2 linked regions of the Homo sapiens genome follow. The protein of the gene in region 1 interacts with the protein of each later gene in a pairwise test. Each region holds a gene or a part of one and is shown on either strand. Other genes may lie near its edges.

The links. The genes of interacting proteins can lie anywhere in the genome.
Region 2: the proteins of SLC66A1 (region 1) and SLC39A9 interact in binary tests that used the Homo sapiens proteins (3 or more experiments, as listed by UniProt).

Annotation. Positions count from the first base shown.
Region 1 is NC_000001.11:19,322,325-19,329,359, forward strand, and holds the end of SLC66A1 (lysosomal amino acid transporter 1 homolog), read left to right. Parts: intron 1-2,308; coding exon 2,309-2,438; intron 2,439-3,170; coding exon 3,171-3,258; intron 3,259-3,920; coding exon 3,921-4,063; intron 4,064-4,206; coding exon 4,207-4,299; intron 4,300-4,902; coding exon 4,903-5,088; exon of another isoform or gene 5,089-5,246; coding exon of another isoform or gene 5,247-5,297; exon of another isoform or gene 5,298-6,247; coding exon 6,248-6,319; 3' UTR 6,320-6,976; downstream 6,977-7,035. UniProt on the Homo sapiens protein: Amino acid transporter that specifically mediates the pH-dependent export of the cationic amino acids arginine, histidine and lysine from lysosomes.
Region 2 is NC_000014.9:69,401,683-69,408,717, forward strand, and holds part of SLC39A9 (zinc transporter ZIP9), read left to right. Parts: intron 1-7,035. UniProt on the Homo sapiens protein: Transports zinc ions across cell and organelle membranes into the cytoplasm and regulates intracellular zinc homeostasis. Participates in the zinc ions efflux out of the secretory compartments.

The DNA of each region.
Region 1 (7,035 bases):
AGGGGATTGGAGGCCTGGGAGAGAGCCCTAAGTGATGGAGAGAGGGTGGCTGCCCCCCTGGTCTTCCCTAGGACTCAGTCTCTCCTGAGTGGGACAGAATCACTTTCCTGCAATTGATGAAGACAAGTCGAGTCATAGCATCTTAGGAGGAGCTTTACTGTAAGGGATAAACCTTGATTAAGGGCCTTCTCAGTGCTGGGCCTATGCTAGTCACTCCCCCTGTCCTCAGGAAACTTGAGGGAATCTGGGAGGGACGGGGATGTCAAGTGTTTCAAAGGAGGAAGGAGAAGATGCCAGCGGAGCTCGTGTCGGGGAGGCCCAGAGGAGGAACCGACATTTCCTGAGACGGGAAAGATGACTCCGAGGTCTCTGGGCCTGAGGAGGGGTGAGCGGGACATCTGAGACCAGAGCTGGGAGGAAGAGAGCCATCCTGGGGCGGCGAGCCTGGGGCCTTGCAAGGATCCCCTCACAGAATGGGGGCCTTTATCCAAGAGCACTGGAAGGCTCTGGCAGTTTTTGGTGACACTGGGGTTTTAGTTTTTTATTTGTTATTAAAGACAATTTTTTTTTTTTTTGAGACAAGGTCTCACTGTGTCATCCAGTCTGAAGTGCAGTGGTGCATTCATAACTCACTGCAGCCTCAACCTCTTGGGCTCAAGTGATCCTCCCACCTCAGCCTCTTGAGTAGCTGGGACCACAGGTCCCCACTCCACACTTGGCTAATTTTTTTTTTTGGTAGAGACAGGGTCTTGCTGTGTTGCCCAGGCTGGTCTTGAACTTGTAGGCTCAAGTGATTCTCTTGCCTCAGCCTCCTGAAGTGCTGGGATTACAGGTGTGAGCTACCACACCCAGCCTCCAAAGTGTTGGGATTATAGGCATAAGCCACTGCTTCTGGCTGAGATGGGGGTTTTAGAAAGATTTCTGAAAGGGAGGATGAAAGATTTCTGAAAGGAGGGAGGCTTGTTAGGAGGCTGAGGGAGGCAGGTGGAAGGACTCGCTGTGGGAAGAATGCCGGTTTCTTAGTTTCTGGCTTGGATAATGGATGGGATGAGCTGCCATTTAGTTAGTTAGTTTCTTTGTTTCTTTTTATTTTCTTTTTTGAGACAGGGTCTTGCTCTGTTGCCCAGGCTGGAGTGCAGTGGTGTGATCTCGGCTTACTGCAACCTCCACCTCCTGGCTTCAAGCAATTCTCATCCCTCAGCCTCCTGAACAGCTGGGATTACAGGCGTGCGCCACCATGCCTGGCTGATTTTTGTATTTTTGGTAGAGATGGGGTTTCACCATGTTGGCCAGGCTGGTCTCGAACTTCTGGCCTCAAGTGATCCACCCTCCTCAACCTCCCAAAGTGTTGGGATTGCAGGTGTGAGCCAACCGTGTCTGGCCACCATTTAGTTTCTTTCTGTCTGTCTGTTTTCCTTCATGCATGCAGGTGGTTAAAGAGAAACTGGAACAGTAAATGGCAGTATGTATAATGGTTAAGAGCAAGACCGGAGGCTCAGGTAGGGGTTGAATCCGAGTGGTATGGCACGGCTTCCTCCAGGCCCAGTGAGGAGGTCATCGTGGTAGACTGGACAGCACAGGTGTCTTGAGGACAGAATGAGTCAACACACATGCAGAGGGCTCAGAACTGCCCTGGGCCTTAGTGCCACCGCCAGCTTTGGCCTCGTACCCACACCTGGCCAGAAGTCCTAAGAGGGTCCCAGCACCAAGGACCTTTGGGAAAACAACCAGGGGACCAAAAGCCTACTACCTTGATAGTGGAGCTCCAGGCGCCTCAGCCCCGCCCTTCTCTGTTGCCCTCTAAAGAGAACTGGGCTGGGGTTCTGCCTGTCTTGGCTACAGCTGCTCCTGGAGACCCGGCGTGCCCAGGCCTTCGGCCCGCACGTCCCTTTCCCAGCACTGTTCTTGTTGCAATGCCCTTCCCTGCATCCACAGGAGAAAGGATCCAGGGTTCTATGCAGCGGTTGTCAGGGCCCAACACAAAACTTCAGGACCCTACATAAGCCCCAGATCCCCACTGGAGACCCCAGGGTGTGGTAGAGGAGAATCTGAGTAAGGCTGCGGCTTTCCCTGGAGAGATGCACAGCCGTAGAGTCCTCGGCTTAGAAGGGATTCCCCAGGGGACTCCTCCAAAGGGCCGAGAAGGCTTCTGAGGATCCCGCCCGTGGGGAGGATGGGCCGCCAGGCCACTTCCTCTCCATCGCCGCCTCGATCCCCATGGTCGTCTCCTCTGGGCGGTGTCCCCTATAAGGCGGCATCCCCTGTAAGGTGGCCTGAGCATGCATCCCTTCCTCTTCCTCTTCCACAGCCAGTTCATCAAAGCCTACAAGACGGGCAACATGGACCAGGCGCTGTCCCTGTGGTTCCTCCTGGGCTGGATTGGCGGAGACTCCTGCAACCTCATCGGCTCCTTCCTTGCTGACCAGCTGCCCCTGCAGGTGGGCCGGTACCCGGGCAAGGTGGCGCTACCCCTAACCCTGCTTCACCCTGCAGGGTTGCCTGAGGAGATGCCAGGCTCTTTGGCCCGCCTGGTCTCCAGAACCCTGACCCGTCATTCCATCTTGTGGGAGGGCCCCATCCTTCTGTCTGCCGAACTGTGACTGTGGGCAGGTCACTGCTCTTCTCTGGGCCTCAGTTTCCCCATCTGCAATATGAGCATGTCTAACAGGAAGGTTTCGGGGTCTTCCACCTCCAGGGTGCTGGAGTGCTGGCGAAGCTTTCAGAGGGTGGGCCCCTCGAGGAGAAAGGGAGTTTTTCCGTGGGAGGCCCAGATGCCATCCTGCTCCTGTGGGCAGGCAGAGCTGGGGCTCCCAATCAGGAAGGCATTGTCTTCCCATGTGGGACCAGAAAGTTCTGACTGCCCTGGTGTCAGGCCAAACCAGAGCCATCACTTCACCGCGGAGTCCCACTTTGTCCTGACTGCTAGCGCTGACCACCAGCTCATTGGCCCCTCCTGGGCTAGATCCTTTCCTGGGTCTTTCGCCCACCTGTTCTGTCATTCTGCCAGGTGGGAACTGGGAGTTCTTCCTTGCCAGATAAGGAAACAGAAGCTCAGAGAGGAGAAGTGACTTGGTCCGGGTCACCCAGCTGGGATATGACAGAGGGCTGCCGGGGCGTGGTCTCAGATCCTGGGACTGCGCCAACCCCTGGGCCCCCTGCATCTCTTACAGACCTACACGGCTGTGTATTATGTCTTGGCAGACCTGGTGATGCTGACGCTGTACTTTTACTACAAGTTCAGGACGCGCCCCTCTCTGTGTGAGTATGGGGACCGCTCTCTGTCAGATGCTCTACCAGCAGCAGGGGGCAGTTGTGGGGGGGGGCGCCTGGAGTGTGGGAGGAAGCGGGTTTCCCATGGCTGGGTGATAACCCAAACCTCGGAAAGCCTTCCCCGGGCCTTATCTAAGAGCCTGAGCCTTAACTGGCCAAGATAGAGGCTTGAGGGCAGTGAGCGCGTCCTGGCCCAGACCACAGGCCGGTTCCTCTCGCCCAGGGGCTCATTCAGCAGACACAGCTCCAGCTCCTCCTCTGTGTCCGGCCCTGGGCTTGGAGCTGGGGAAACGAGGGCAAGTCACACAGGCTGCCTCTGCCCCAGCCTTCAGGAGGAGCAGGAGACAAGGTCAGCTTGAGGCTATACAGACACGGGGAGGGACCTGGGGAGGAAGTTGTCTCATCAGCGTTCCTGCTTCGTGTAACCCCCTCCTGACCTCCCTGCCCTCAGCGTTTCACCTTTATAACTCTAGGAGAAGGGTACTGTTGTTGTACCCATTCGACAGATGAAGAATGAAAGCTCAGAGAGGTTAGGTCACTTGCCCAAGGTCACACAGCCCCTGAGGGGCAAGGCCAGGACTTAGCACCCTCCCCCGACAACCGCTGCCACTCAGCCATCTAACCTCAGCTTCCCCCTGCCTTGTGTGCAGTGTCTGCCCCCATCAACTCCGTGCTGTTGTTCCTCATGGGGATGGCGTGCGCCACACCGCTGCTGAGTGCTGCTGGGCCCGTGGCTGCCCCTAGGGAAGCCTTCCGGGGGCGGGCGCTCCTGTCCGTGGAGTCGGGCAGCAAGGTGAGGCGTGGGCGTGGCGGTCGAAGGGATGGAGGCTGGCTCATCCCCAGGGCTCTCCCCTGCACAGCCTCATGGGTGCTAAATGGGGTGGGGGATCACCTCTGGCTCCTACGAGACACCAAGTGCCCCCTTCTGCCCCACAGCCCTTCACCCGGCAGGAAGTCATTGGCTTCGTCATCGGCTCCATCTCCAGCGTGTTGTACCTGCTTTCCCGGCTGCCTCAGATCCGCACCAACGTGAGCCTCCAGCAGGGGCTGGGTGGGGCCGAGTAGAGGAGAGCTGGCCTGGCCACCCGGGCCCTCTGGGCTAAGGAGTAGCACAGCATAGGAGCCTTGGTTCAGAAAGTCTGGTCTACTCCCGCTGTTGGCTTGGGCAAGTTAATCCAATCTCCGAGCCTCCATTTCTGCTTCTGGAAAATGGGCGTGGCGTGGCCTGCCAGCCAGGCTACAAGAGGCCCATGTGTGTCTTGGGGGAGTGGGAGGTCAGGGGAAGGTGAGGGGCTGAGCTTGGAGGCCTGAGGGGAGAGGAGAAGCTGGGGAGTCGGGGAGGGGAGGCTTGCTGGGCAGCTAGAGCCTGTGTGGGGTGGAATGCAGGGTGGTGTGGGGCCACAGGCCTGGCACAGCCACGGTCTCCCGTGGACCTGGGCAGGGGCCTGGGGGGGCTTGTCTGTGGGTGGGAGGAGGCTCTTCTGTGTGTCGGGCCCATATCCCTGGGCACCCAGGGAAAGATTGGCTCAGAGCAGGTGCACTGTGGTGGGGCAGGTGGACATGTGGACAGTTACAATCCAGAGTGACAAGAGGCCTGTTCGAGGTCTCTGACCTGACCTCCTCCTGCCCCAGTTCCTCCGGAAGTCCACCCAGGGGATCTCCTACTCTCTGTTCGCGCTGGTGATGCTGGGGAACACGCTGTATGGGCTGAGCGTGCTGCTCAAAAACCCCGAGGAGGGCCAGAGCGAGGGCAGCTACCTGCTGCACCACCTGCCCTGGCTTGTGGGCAGCCTGGGCGTGCTGCTGCTCGACACCATCGTATCCTTCAGGGCGTGTGGGGCAGGTGGCGGGGTGTGGGCAAGGAAGCTTCTGCCTGCACACAGCGTCAGCACTCATCCGTCTCTTCCTCCCTTCATCCATCCGTCCATCCATCCATCCCTCCCTCCCTCCCTCCCTCCCTCCATCTGTTCACCCAGTCGTGCACACCTCCTGTGTGCCAGGCACCCAGCTGGACCCTGGAGCCGTGAGTGAGCAAGAACAGCCATGAGTGCCCCAGAAGCTTACAGCCCAGCGGGGCGCAGAGAGGACACAACGCTATCATCAAAGAATTACTTCATTGCAGTGGCACCAAGTGCTGCAGAGAAAAACAACAAGAGCGTCTAGCCAGGGACCGTCCTGGTTAGAGGGGCAGCAAAGGCCCCTATAAGTCTCATTGAACCTGTGACTTGACAGAGTAGGAGAAGTCAGGCGAAGGCAGGAGAGGAATGTTCTAGGCTGTGCAGACGAGAGCTGGAGTGTGGAGAGACACATGACTTGGTCAGACAAACCTGGGTTCAAATCCTGGCTCCTCCCCTGCTTCCTAGCTGTGTGACGCAGGGCACACAGTCAACCTCTCTGTGCTGCCGTGTCTTCACCTCAGTTAACAGCCACTGTCTCGTCAGGATGTTGTGTAAGATGAGGTATCTGGAAACACTCCCCACAGGACCCCGTTTTCAGTGAGGGCTCAGAAAGTGTTTGCTGAATGGCTGTAAAGAGCGTTACCTGGGTCTCATTTCGGAGCAAGTAAACATGGCCTTTGTTTTAATATTTGTTAAGTCCCTGCCGGGCGCAGGGAGGGGTGAAAGTTTAGGCTCTTGTGCCCCAAAACGGCCCAGCCACCTGGAAGCCTCCAGGACGCCACAGCTGAGAGCAAGCGAAGATCCTGGGCCAGGGTCAAGGGAGGCTGCCCACGGGAAGGAGAAGTCAGTGCTAGGCTTGGAGACAGATGGAGCTTGGCTAGGGCTTGAGGAGCCGGGCAGAAGTTCTGAGTGGAGGGCACAGCTAAGGTAGCGGCTGGGAGGTTATGGCTGGCCCTTCCCACCTGCAGCGTGGGGGTGGGAGGGAGGGGAGAGGGAGGCAGCTCCCAGGAGTCGAAGGCCCCCAGGGGCAGGTCCAACCCAGTCTCTGCTCAGCTTGGCCTTAACGGCGGCACCCCCAGATCTCCATCCAGTTCCTGGTGTACAGGCGCAGCACCGCCGCCTCGGAGCTTGAGCCCCTCCTCCCCAGCTGACCAGAACCAGGCTGAGCGCAGGAGGACAGGCACCACCGGATGCCACACCAGGCAGGAGGAGGTGTGGACAGTGATGGTACGGCGGCCCTGCATCAGCCTGCGGGTGGCCTCTGGATCCTCCGTGGACCGAACCGTCCCCCCAGGAACACACCTTCAGGTAGACCCCGAAGCCTCAAGGCCGGGGCTGGAGCGGAGACCCCAGGGCCTCTCAGGAGACAGTGAGGCTGCCCCTCCTACCACCTACCTCATTCTGCCTACTCACCCCAGGGGCCACAGCCACAGCCTGCTGGACTCAGGACTGTCCTGTCAACTCCAGACAACTGAATAAACAGGCCGGGTACAGTGGCTCGCACCTGTAATCCTAGCACTTTGGGAGGCCGAAGCGGGTGGACCACTTGACGTCCGTAGTTCGAGACCAGCCTGGCCAACATGGTGAAACCCCATCTCTACTAAAAATACAAAAATTAGCCAGGTGTGGTGGCACACATCTGTAGTCCCAGCTACTTGGGAGGCTGAGGCAGGAGAACTGTTTGAACCTGGGAGACAGAGGTTGCGGTGAACCGAGATCGTGCCACTGTACTCCAGCCTGGGTGACAGAGTGAGACTCCGTCTCAAAAAAATAAAAAAGATAACCGAGGAAACGGTACCTCCCCATGAGACCTGCTTCTGTTGCTCCTTCCCCAAGGTGCTGAGGGATCGGGGCTGCTTTGGGGACC
Region 2 (7,035 bases), on another chromosome or scaffold:
TATGTCATGTCATTTGTGGCTTTCTTAAATTGACGGTCAGATGGTCTTTTCCAGCTGTAGGTCTTAAAATGCTAAAATCAGCATTCATAATATCTGTTTATTATTAGAGTAGATGCAATGCATTTTGAGCTATTAGAATAAAAAATGAAAGTTATATATAACTTAAAGACATCCTAGAATTCAACTAGGATTTCTATCTCCTAGGAACTAAACATATTTTCTAGGTAAATTATGCCATTATTATGGACCAATGTTGTAATGAAACTAGTGAGATGGTAAATTTGTAAAAATAAATTTCATTCACGGGGGACTGGAAAGCACCATTTCTTTCCTTAGAAAATAATTCCCCAAACTCCTACACTGGATAAATGACTTGCCTTTTTAAGGAAGTCTGGCTTTCTTAGAGGCTAGTGTTACTGTTTTACAGTTCACTTTCGTTTACATCAGGGGTGTCCAATCTTTTGGCTTCCCTGGGCCACATCAGAAGAAGAATTATCTCAAGCCACACATAAAATACACTAACACTAAGATAGGTGATGAGCTAAAAAAAAAAAATGCAAAAAAAAACTCATAATGTTTTAAGAAAGTTTATGAATTTGTGTAAGGCTTCATTCAAAGTGCTCCTGGGTTGCATGCGGCCCACGAGCCATGAGTTGGACAAGCTTGATTTACATGAAAAGATATGCTTTTTATTCATGTTTTTAATCTTGCTGCTGCTTTCTCATTCAATACTTTTTCTAAAAATATCTCAGAACAGGAATAAAAGTCAGATGATCAATTATGGCAAGATTAGTATTTAAAAACGAGTTAAAATTAGGTAGTCTGAAATTGCAGTAGTGGTGGGGTCTACCTGCCAGATGTGCCCACCAAGAGGTTTATGTGACATTGATTTCTCTGTCAGTTTCTCCTCACCCCAAAACTACCTTTCTTGATACTTTTGTGGCCTTCTTCCTTGCCCTTTGACCTGGCAACTGTACTTTCATGCCTTAAAAATTTATAAAACAAAGGAAAAAAAATCCGATTCTCAAATGCAATTATAAGTAACTATGATAATCAGGATGTAAATTTTTTCAGTATACAGGAAAGAGAAACACTTTTAACTTTTAAAGGAGGCCAGCCAGGTGCTAAGTGGCTCACGCCTGTAATCCCAGCACTTTGGGAGGCTGAGGTGGGCGGATTACCTGAGGTCAGGAGTTCGAGACCAGCCTGGCCAACATGGCGAAACCCCATCTCTACTAAAAATACAAAAATTAGCTGGGCGTGGTGGCATGTGCCTGTAATCCCAGCTACTCAGGAGGCTGAGACAGGAGAATTGCTTGAACCCAGGAGGCGGAGGTTGCAGTGAGCCGAGTCCCACCATTGCACTCCAGCCTGGGGAACAAGAGCAAAACTTTGTCTCAGAAAAAAATAAAAATAAATAAATAAAAATAAATAAATAAAGGAGGCCAAAGCATGCTTTACACAAAGGAAGCCCTGTTTGGTAAGGGAGTGAGACCCGTTGGTTTATAGTTAACACTGTCTTATGTTTTTTCGATTGAATTGCTAATGAGTAGTTTTCTTTGGCTCTAAATAACAATGTTACATAAGTAGGTTGAGAGCCTATATTACCTAGTATAAACTCAGTGCTGCTGCAGTTGATAAATGGAGCTATGATACAAAAACAGATGGCTCAAGTGGGATTTCAGATTGATTATCTGAGGGTTGTTACTCACCTGAGTATGTCTCCTCTTTGTCACAGAGCTGGTAACAGAGAGCAAGCTGTTTTTGGCTCAGAGCTCTACAGCAATATTCCTCAAACTGCCTGGTAAAGGATCAGTTTTTGTTTTTAATTTTTATTTCAATCCATACCAATACACTTATAAAAATGAAATAGTAGGAAAATGAAGTGAAAAAAAGACATAGAAAATACAAGCCCAAATGTATTGTTAAATTCAACAGATAAAAAATTACTACTATAATTGTAATAATCATATTGCTCTAAAAATTTCTGAAGGCTTTATCTCAGTTGCCATACTTTTCTTATTGCAGACCAGTTTGAGTTATAATGCCACATTTTTCATGTATTAAAACAGCAAAGCAGGCCAGGCGTGGTGGCTCACGCCTGTAATCCCAGCACTTTGGGAGGCCGAGGCAGGCGAATCATCTGAGGTCGGGAGTTCGAGACCACCCTGACCAACACGGAGAAACCCTGTGTCTACTGAAAATACAAAATTATTTGGGCGTGGTGGCACGTGCCTGTAATCCCAGCTACTTGGGGGGCTGAGGCAGGAGAATCGCTTGAACCTGGGAGGCGGAGGTTGCAGTGAACCAACATTGCGCCATTGCACTCCAGCCTGGGCAGCAAGAGCAAAACTCCCTCTCAAAAAAACAAAAAACAAACAAACAAAAACAGCAAAACTGGATGTAGTGGCACACACTGGTTAGTCCCAGCTACTCCAAATGCTGATGTGGGAGGATCACTTGAGCCCAGGAGTTCAGGGTTGCAGTGAGCTATGAGTGTGCCTGTGAATAGCCACTGGCAACATAAGGAGACCTACTCCCTAAAATAACCAACAGCATAAATCCATAAGTTGGCAGATGAAAGTAGTGCTATTCTTAGGATGATTTTAAAGATGAATATGATTAATAATGCACTGATTTCAAAAGGGACTGTCTGAGACAGTATCATTCAAAGTCAATGTTACTACTTGAACAAGCTATTAAAATCCAAATCTCTTCTGTTAAATGACCTTCTAGGATTGTTGTGAGGTTGAAATAATATAAGCACAGGCTTAACACTATGTCTAGAACATAATAAAAACTTTCAAAAATATTGAGGCAGATTCTCAATACTGATTAGAAAAACTTGTAAAGATTTTCATTTTTATAACTTTGTTCTAATTTATAATTGTTAAACCTTTTATTTGGAAACAGACTTAATAATGGGAAGCTCCTCCCCCTCCTCCCCTTCGCAGTCATGGAAACTTCTCGGCAATTTGTTTGGAATCCAAAGGTCTTGTTGTGGGGTTTGGTTTGCATTACTATTTACCATTCTATTTGGAGAGGCCAGGGCTTTTCCTCTACCCTCCCTGCTTTATACTATTTTTCTTAGTATTTAACTCTCTTTTCTTCATTATACTTACTCTCATTTTAAGCTTTGTTTTGTTCTTTCGTGTTTTAAAGTTTTGTGTCTGTATTAGTCCATTCTTACACTGCTAATAAAGACATTTCTGAGACTGGGTAATTTATAAACGAAAGAGGTTTGATTGACTCACAATTCAGCATAGCTGGGGAGGCCTAAGGAAACTTACAATCATGGCAGAAGAGGAGGCAAACACATCCTTCTTCATGGGGCGGCAGGATGGAGAAGTGCTGAGCAAAAGGGGGAAAGCCCCTTATAAAACCATCAGATCTCGTGAGAACTCACTGTCACAAGAACAGCAAGAACTCACTATCACAAGAACAGCATGACCTCCCACCAGGTCCCTCGCATGGGAACTACAACTCAAGATGAGATTTGGGTGGGGACACAACCAAACCATATCAGTGTCTGATTATAATAACTGACTCATTCATAATAAGTATCTTTAGGGGTTTGAGTTACCCGCAAATCAAAGGTTTATTGTGTCTGAAGAACAGATTTATTCAGTATGCTTCTGCCTCTACAATAGGTTCTCTTTGAAGTAGATTTAACAATGTTACATTTTTAAGGACTTTTATATTGTCTGGTACATTGCTCTTACCCTCTTATGGTAATACAAGAGATTTTATACCTGTTTGGAATTTCATTTGTAAATTCTAAGATTTGAGCCGGGCATGGTGGCTTATACCTGTAATCCCAGTGCTTTAGGAGGCTGAAGCTGGAAGTTTGCTTGAGGCCAGGAGTTTGAGACCAACCTGGGCAACAAGTGAGACCCTGTCTCAGATGAATGAACGTAAATTATAAAATTTTAAACTTTGCAATCTCAGTAAATTTATCCATATCTGGAAAGAAATCATCAGCTTGTCTTTTCTCAGATTGAACTACAGATTATTGTTTCATAAGGATCCTTGATAAAACTAAGTTTGGATCAAATAAAATCCGGTTGCAATATGATTCAATATTATTTTCCTGAAAAACTTTGTTTTCTCCAGGATACTATATTGATAAACATAATTAAGACTTATCTGCATAATAATATTAATAATGTTTATTGAGCTCTTTCTGTATACCAGGCAATGATATGCACTATCTTATTAATCCTCAGGACCAAGACTATGAGATACTGTTAAACCTCACTTTACAAATGAGCAAACTCAGGCTTGAAGAGGTCACAGACTCTGGTAGAGGTGTGATTTGGAACTAAGTCATTTTGATTCCTGTTGCCAAATCAGTCACTTGACTACTAAATGTTGCCTTTCCTAATGAATGCTGTGTAAAGAAGGAATGAAAATAGGATCTACCTAAATTGATGCCTTTAGCTCCCCAAATTAGGAACATCTTTCATACCTTCCACAGTATATCTCATGCTTTCTGCCTAGTCAGTGGAGTAGAACTTGAAACTCCAGAGGTAAACAGTCTCCAAATACCATTGAAACCTATAAGAAATAAGTTAATATGTCTTAGATGCCTTTTAAATTAACACCTGCCAATTTGGAATCTGAAGTAGTTCCTATTGTGAACTATCCAAGATGAATTTCACACTTGACATCCTCACAGGTTAGTCGTAAATTGTGCTGTTCAAGAAGTGACATCCTTTTCAAGAGAAGATGACATGAAATGGATTCAGAATGTTTCTGTATATGATAGTCTTAACCTCTCCTCTAATTAAAGAATTTAATGATGAGACTTTTGTTGAATGATAAGATCCCCTTCAGCTCAGTATGGAATTCCACACTGGGCTGAGCGCAGTGGCTCACGCCTGTAATCCCAGCTACTCGGGAGGCTGAGGCAGGAGAATTGCTTGAACCTTGGAGTCGGAGATTGCAGTGAGCTGAGATTGTACCATGGCACTCCAGCCTGGGCAACAGAGCGAGACTGTCTTAAAAAAAAAAAAAAAAAGTAGTAGTACTAAGTATGAGTACTGGTATTTCTTAAAACCTATAATGAAATTACAGAAATCTCAGTCTTCCTTGAATACTAATATTCAGTTTTTAACTTATTGAAATAAAATGGAAATAAATATTAGTTAGACTGGAAATTCTTTGTTTTTTTTTTTTTTTTTTTTGAGATGGAGTCTTGCTCTGTCGCCCAGGCTGGAGTGCAGTGGCGTGATCTCAGCTCACTGCAACCTCCCCTTCCCAGGTTCAAGCAATTCTCCTGCCTCAGCCCCCCCAGTAGATGGGATTACAGGTGCGTGCCACCATAACCAGCTAATTTTTTGTATTTTTAGTAGAGACAAGGTTTCACCATGTTAGCCAGGATGATCTGGATCTCCTGGCCTTGAGATCTGCCTGCCTCGGCCTCCCAAAGTTCTGGGATTACAGGCATGAGCCACCACACCCAGCCCTGGAAATTCTTACATGGAAATTCATTTTTAAATGAAAAGGTCTTGAGGGTAACTAATAGATAATTACATCAAACTATCTATTGCAAACCCTGTATTTATCTGACGTTAATTTCCTTCCTTCCTTTCTTTCCTTTCCTTCCTTCCCTTCCTTCCCTTCCTTCCTTCCTTCCTTCCTTCCTTTCTTCCTTCCTTTCTTCTTTCCTTCCTTCCAAATTTCACTCTTGTTGCCCAGGCTGGACTGCAATGGCATGATCTTGACTCACCATAACCTCCGCCTCCCAGGTTCAAGTGATTCTCCTGCCTCAGCCTCCCAAGTAGCTGGGATTACAGGCATGCACCACCACGCCCCACTAATTTTGTATTTTTAGTTAGAGACAGGGTTTCTCCATGTTGGTCTCAAACTCCTTACCTCAGGTGGTCTGCCCGCCTAGGCCTCCCAAAGTGCTGGGATTACAGGCGTGAGCCACTGCGCCCGGCCAATTTTCTTTCTTTTTTTTTTTATTTTGAGACAGAATTTTGCTGTTGTTGCCCAGGCTGGAGTGCAATGGCACGATCTCGGCTCACTGCAACCTCCTCCTCTCAGGTTCAAGAGATTTTCCTGCCTCAGCCTCCCAAGTAGCTGGGATTACAGGCGCCTGCCACCATGCCTGGCTAGTTTTGTAGTTTTAGTAGAGACAGGGTTTTTCCGTGTTGGTCAGGCTAGTCTTGAACTCCCGACCTCAGGTGAATCCGGCCTCCCAAAGTGCTGGGATTACAGGCATGAGCCACCGCACCCGGCCCTGCTATTATATTCTTTACGGTTCTCTCTTAGTCAATTCCTCATCATTCTAGTCCCCTTTTATGCTTTTATAGGTATTCCTTTTTTCTTTCTTTCTTATTTTGAGATGGAGTCTTGCTCTGTTGCCCAGGCAGGAGTGCAGTGGTATGATCTTGGCTCACCACAACCTCTCTCTTTGGGTTCAAGTGATTCTCCTGCCTCAGCCTCCCAAGTAGCTGAGATTACGGCTGCCTACCAACACGCCCGGCTAATTTTTGTATTTTTGGTAGAGACAGGGTTTTGCCATGTTGGCCAGGCTGTTCTCAAACTCCTGACCTCAGTTGATCAGCCCGCCTTGGCCTCCGGAAGTGCTGGGATTACAGGTATGAGCCACCATGCCCAGCCCCCTTTTGTAGGTATTCTTTATGTTAAACTTTCTCTCTTCAAATTACTTTATGCTTTCTCTTTGATGAAAGGACCCTGACTGATAGAGGTAGGTAATGGATCATAAAATCAAATAAGGCTGAACAGAGAATTAAGCCTGGAGTAAAATAAGACAGCCCCAGTGTCATGATATATGGCAGCTGACCTTCAGTGTCAGTGCCTGGGAGTCATTAGGGAGAAGTGAGAACTGTGGGCATCTAAAGGGCACATATCATTTGATGACACCAAATCTTCCTATTTTTCCAAAGCTAGAAATCTGGATTTTTATATGAAGTCTCCTGAATTTTATCCTTTGGCTACTTATTCAAATATTGTATCAGTGCGTGGGCCAAACAACCCATGTTTGTGAGTCTACAAGCCTCTAGA